Linked DNA regions of Homo sapiens. The protein of the gene in region 2 purifies or fractionates together with the protein of the main gene of each other region. This does not show direct contact. Each region holds a gene or a part of one and is shown on either strand. Other genes may lie near its edges.

The links.
Region 1: the proteins of DEPDC5 (region 2) and SESN2 purify together in Homo sapiens (affinity purification with mass spectrometry, with the first as the bait; one large-scale study listed by BioGRID). This does not show direct contact.

What each region holds. Positions count from the first base shown.
Region 1 is NC_000001.11:28,266,018-28,269,517, forward strand, and holds part of SESN2 (sestrin-2), read left to right. Parts: intron 1-3,165; coding exon 3,166-3,231; intron 3,232-3,500. UniProt on the Homo sapiens protein: Functions as an intracellular leucine sensor that negatively regulates the mTORC1 signaling pathway through the GATOR complex. In absence of leucine, binds the GATOR subcomplex GATOR2 and prevents mTORC1 signaling.
Region 2 is NC_000022.11:31,906,276-31,908,533, reverse strand, and holds the end of DEPDC5 (GATOR1 complex protein DEPDC5), read right to left. Parts: coding exon 2,037-2,258; 3' UTR 501-2,036; downstream 1-500. UniProt on the Homo sapiens protein: As a component of the GATOR1 complex functions as an inhibitor of the amino acid-sensing branch of the mTORC1 pathway.

The sequences.
Region 1 (3,500 bases), on a different chromosome or scaffold from region 2:
TATATGAAGGCCAAGGGCTTTGTCTTTTCACTGCTGTATTCTTGCTGCTTGCAATATAGCCATCAAAAATATTTGTTGAGTGAACAAATTAATTCTGTTTCCACCTAGAAAGCACTTAGCATAGTGCCTTATACTTGAGAAAGTGATCAATAAATGGTGTAAACAATGGTCCTCACCCTGGCTGTTATGCTGGGGCCCCACCCCAGATAACTAAATTAGAATTGCGGGAGGTGGGACCTTGGCATTGTTATTTTTGTAAAGCTTCTCAAAGGATTCTAATGTACCGCTTGGGTTGAGAAGCCCTTGTTTGATACAGCAAGGAGGTTAATGATACCTGACTTTTTATTAAGTGCTTATTGTTATGGAGGTATTGAGGTAAGCTACACAGTGTTATCTCATGAAATCCTCATCACTGGCCAGTGGAAGTAGTTACTGCTATCCCCATTATTTGGTAAAGAAACTGAGGCTCATAAAGCTAAGGGATAGCAGGTGGTGGAGCTGTCATTTGAGCTCATGCAATTTGTGTCAAGAGCCCCATCTTTTTTTTTTTTTTTTTTTTTGAGACAGGGTCTTGCCCTGTTGCTCAGGCTGGAATGCCGTGGTGCGATCATAGCTTGCTGTAACCTCAAACTCCTGGGCTCAGGCAGTCCTCCTGCCTCAGCCTCCTGAGTAGCTGGGACTACAGGTTGTGTGCTACCATGCCCAGCTAATTTACTGTTTGTGGAGACAGGGGTCTCACTGTGTTGCCCAGGCTGGTCTCGAATTCCTGGCCTCAAGCGATCCTCTTGCCTCAGTGTCCCAACGTGCTGGGATGAGCTGCTGCGCCAGCCAAGGGCCCCTATCTTTTAACTGCATTGTATATTGTTGTTGTTGTTGTTATTGCTGAAAGTGTTGATGGATCCAGACCGATGACTTAGAGCTCCTTCTTTTGACAATTCCTGGGTCAGATTTTGGAGTGAGTTGGGATTCCCAAGGCTATTCCTATCCTTCCCTAGCACCCCTGATGGGCCGTCTCTGCCTCCCCCAGTTTTGCTCCACCCTACCCTGCTGTGGCTTGCTATTCTGTCCTCAGGTCCCCTGAGGTGGAGGCCCAGTTTGTGGAGTCAGCAATCCTTATCTCCTATACAGAGCTGTTGGGCTTTTTCTTTGGTGAGGGGGAGGGAAGCTCCAAAGGGGAGTGCTCAGGGATTGTGTTGGTTACTACGCTGAACTTGGACCAGCCTGGCCCGGAAGTTCCCAGAAGTGTGGGCTGAAGGGGGCCTGCACGGTCAGCTCAACTCCCTTTTTGAAGGTAGCTGGGCTACTTTACCTACCAGTTTAGTAGGTAAAGAGAGTTTAGGCCTTTAACTTTCCCAGAGCCACATAGCAAGTTAGTTGCAGAATTGGTACCTATTCCAGAGACTTTGTAGTCTTCTGGAGTCCCAGAGCTCTGCCTCCTCAGTGGGCTTTTGGCCATCTGAGAAGGAAGGTTCAATTATAGTTTTTGGTTCCCGGATACCTGAGGGCTGGTACTAAGTCTGGATCTTAATGGGAAGGGGAGAACTGGGCGCCTCCTATCCCTGTCCAGTGAGAGCATGGCTCTGATTTGGGTAAACTGTAAACAAGACCAGTGCTGAGAGCCACCTCCACTCTCAGATTAACAAAATAAATTAATAAGTAGAGCATCCTTCCTGAACCCCATCTCTAGGACTAGGAGAAGCAGATGTAGTGAGTACCTGATATTAGTGGTTTCTAAAGAGGCTGCAGCATATAACAGGTCAAAACAGTTGCTCCCATCAGCCTTGTACACCCTGCTCAGATTCCCTCCGTGCCTTTCTGCTTTCTCTGTCTTCATTCACAGACTAGTATGAATGACCTGGCGCTGCTCTCCACTAAATGTGATCTGGTGTCAGGGAAACAAAACAGACAATTTGATGACAGTGTTTTTAGAAGCAAAAGCCCTGGGAATTTTGGGGTCATAGGTGAGGGCCAGAAAAAGGTTCCTAGACTATTGTGGTTTAGCTTTGCAAAAGGAGTGACCACTGGGACTGGGCCAGTTGTATCTGGAAGCCCATGGGAGGGGGAGGTAGGGTTTTAAGCCAGTTGATCGGATTTATATTCAGAAAGTTAATGTGGCTACTGGGTAGAGGATGGATAGGAGAGGCCAGGGCTAAGGAGGCCGGGGGACAACTGGCGAGGTTGTGAGTAGTGGTCCAGACAAGAGGGGGTGGTAGTTAATGAGGTGGTGGTGGTGGGAGGACAGATAAGCAGCCAGGCATGGTGACTCCCATCTGTAATCCCAGTGCTTTGGGAGGCCAAGGCAGGAGGATCCATTGAGCCCAGCAGTTTGAGGCTATAGTGAGCTATGACTGCACCACTAAAGAAGAGGCCAGGCGTGGTGGCTCATTCCAGTAATCCCAGCACTTTGGGAGGCTGAGGTGGGCGGATCACCTGAGGTTGGGGATTCGAGACCAGCCTGGCCAACATGGAGAAACCCAGTTTCTACTAAAAATATAAAATTAGGTGAGCGTGGTTGTGCATGCCTGTAATCCCAGCTACTCGGGAGGCTGAGGCAGGAGAATCGCTTGAACCCAGGAGGCAGAGGTTGCAATGAGCTGAGATCGCACCATTGCACTCCAGCCTGGGCAACAAGAGCGATACTCCGTCTCAAAAAAAAAAAGAAGCAAAAGAAGGAAGGAGAAGGAAGGAAGGAAGGAAGAAGGAGGAGGAGGAGGAAGAAAGGAAGGAAGGAAGGAACGAACGAACATGTGAGAGAAATTGAAGCTGCTTCTGAAGCATCTGGGGTACTTGGTTACCTGGCTTCAGGGTGCAAACTGTGGTGTGTTCTTGTATAAGTTCTCTGGGACCACTAAGAAGGTGGCCTCCTGGAGATGTGCAGCATGATGGCTATATAGTTCCTTTTCCAGGACCCTCCCATCCCGCAATGCTGGGATTCTTGGGTCCCAACCCAGTTCCTGAAGAACTCAGCCTGGAGTGAGCCCTCTTTCTTGATTACCCTTCCAAACATGTGTATATCTCCCATCTGGCTCCACCATCCAAAGTATGCTAGAAAGGTGGGTTTAACACTTCAGTGTAGCCCCTTGGATAGGAGGAAGAGGCTGGATAGGTAATAATCCTCTTTATTCTCCCTTCTACTACGGACTAACCTCATATGTTTCCTCCCAGGAGCAGAGGGAGAGCCGGGCTCGGCGAGGCCCTCGAGGGCCCAGCGCCTTCATCCCCGTGGAGGAGGTAAGCTTGGAAGGGGTTAGGGATCTTTGGTCCCTGGGAAGAAAGGACATGGCATATTGGTAGGCAGGCATCTTTTCCTGTTCTTTAAATTGCAGCTTTTAAGCTATTCCTTTCTGATTTCTGATTCATTTAATTCACAAAACGGCTTTGTGAAGCAGGCACTGTCAACTCCATTTTACTGGGAAGAAACAGGCTCAAAGAAATCAAGTGCTAATAGCCAGGTAGTGGCCAAACTTTTTTTTTTTTTCATGCTCAAACTTTTGATTCCT
Region 2 (2,258 bases):
GGAGAATGGCATGAACCTGGAGGCGGAGCTTGCAGTGAGCTGAGATCGCACCACTGTATTCCAGCCTGGGTGACAGAGCCGGACTATGTCTCAAAAAAAAAAAAAAAAAAAAAAGAAAGAAAGAAAAAAAAAGAAGCTTCTGCCATGGTAGAGTGTAAACATGTTGAGTACCATGCTGGAGAAGTACAAAGTGCTGTGGGAGGATGTAACAGGGCCAACTCTGCTTCTCTGGAGAAGTGACAGTTGAGCTAAGAGCTGATGGCTGACCACCAGGAGTTAGTGAGACAGAGCGGGCATGGAGGGAGGCATGTTCCAGGCAGATGGAACAGAGGGAACAGCAAGTGCAAAGCGTCTGAGCTGGTGCAGAGTTTGTGATGTTCCAGGGACTGTGTGATGGCCAGGGTGGCTGTACAAACAGCCCACCAGACCAGACTGTGCAGGACCATGTGGGCTGCATCTAAGATTTTTGAAGTTCAAGTCACCAAAAAGTTCTAGTTAAGTGGTGGGCAAAATCACAGTGGTTTTATAAAAAGACTGACTGACAAGTGGAGTGAAAGCAGAGACAAATTAGAAGGTTTTCCTGGGGATCTAAGAGAAAGACAAAGGAAGGCTGGACTGAGTGGCAGCTCAGGGCCTGGGAAGAAGAGAATGGATGCAAAGCCATTGAGGAGGCAAATCAACAGAGCTTGTGATGAACTCCACGTGGTGAGATGGCACAGCAAGAAGTGGCAGTCACTGTCGGATTCTCCCCTCTGACCCACAGCTCCTGAACTGCCCTGAGTAGCTTAAGGCAGGGTGCTGAGGTGAAGCACCAAGCTGAGTCTTATCTCAGCAAATCTAAGTTAGGCCGGGCATGGTGGCTCACACCTGTAATCCCAGCACTTTGGGAGGCTGAGGTGGGTGGATCGCCTGAGGTGAGGAGTTCAAGACCAGCCTGGCCAACATGGTGAAACCCCATCTCTACTTAAAATACAAAAAATTAGCCTGGTATGGTGGCAGGTGCCTGTAATCCCAGCTACTCGGGAGGCCGAGACAGGAGAATCGCTTGAACCCAGGAGGCAGAGGTTGTAGTGAGCTGAGATCACACCATTGCACTCCAGCCTGGGCAACAAGAGTGAAAACTGTGTCAAAAAAAACAACAAAAAAAACAACAACAAAAAAAACCTAAGTTAGAGTCTACAAAATGTTTCCTTTGATTTTTTTCAGAATGCCATCATATCTGCGTCCCAGAGCTGAGCTCACCCATTTAGCAAGATTCATTCTGACAGCATGAGCCTGCAGTTACCTTGTAAGTTATACTGCCTGCTCACTGTCCTCACTGGAACCATCCTTGCTCCTGCCCAGTGGCCTATGAAAGAAATCTCTCAATAAACTCCCAGCCAGACTCTAAGCCAGTGAATTCTGAAGCCCTCTCACCATCTGTGACCACTTCATTGACTGCCATGACCCCGGCCACCTGGCACAACTGCCCAGCCCAGGATGGGACTGCTTCTGTGGGGAACTGGGTGGGGAAAGAAATGATGCACGTGGAGCTCTTTATTTGCTTCTGATATGTACAGGTATATACAGTTGGTGAGAGTCTATGGTACATTATTTCACAAAATTATCTTACATCTGTGCACACTCCTGGGCAAGAAGTGGCAGATTCTGCCCCTAATATCCCATAGATGGTGAAGGAAAAGGATGCTACCAGGAGCCACCCCCTTCCGAGGACATTCATGGGGGCCGCCTGCCCTCTTCCCAGACACTGGAGCCCTCCCACGGACAATCTGTGCCTCCCACCTGCTCTGAGCACTTGCTGACAGGAGTGGTGGCAGCAGCAGCAGCTGCTTCCAAAGTCTTTCTTCTAGAGTAGAAGACTTGTCGTGGGGGCCAAAAACAAACAAACAAACAAACAAACAAACAAAAAACAATGGCCCCCACTCACTGATAGCAGCAAACGGACACCTGACTCCTAGAGCCTGCCTGGAATCCTCCGCCCCGGGTTTGAGGGCAGTGGCTCACCCACCTTCCCCCAGCACAGGTGCAGCCTGGCCTCACGGGGCACTGGCATGCATCTTCTCCAGGCAACTTGTCCAGAACGTGACCAGCCGGTTGTCACGGTTGATGCAGAAGTCCGTGAAGTCCTTCAGCAGCCGATCAGCAAACTTTTCATCCCCTGTGGCGCTGGAGCGCCATGTTTTGGTGAGCATGGTGTTGTAGGCCCAGTTGTAGCCGACCCGCTCCTCGCAGAACATGTTCTGGTTGGTGGAGCTGGT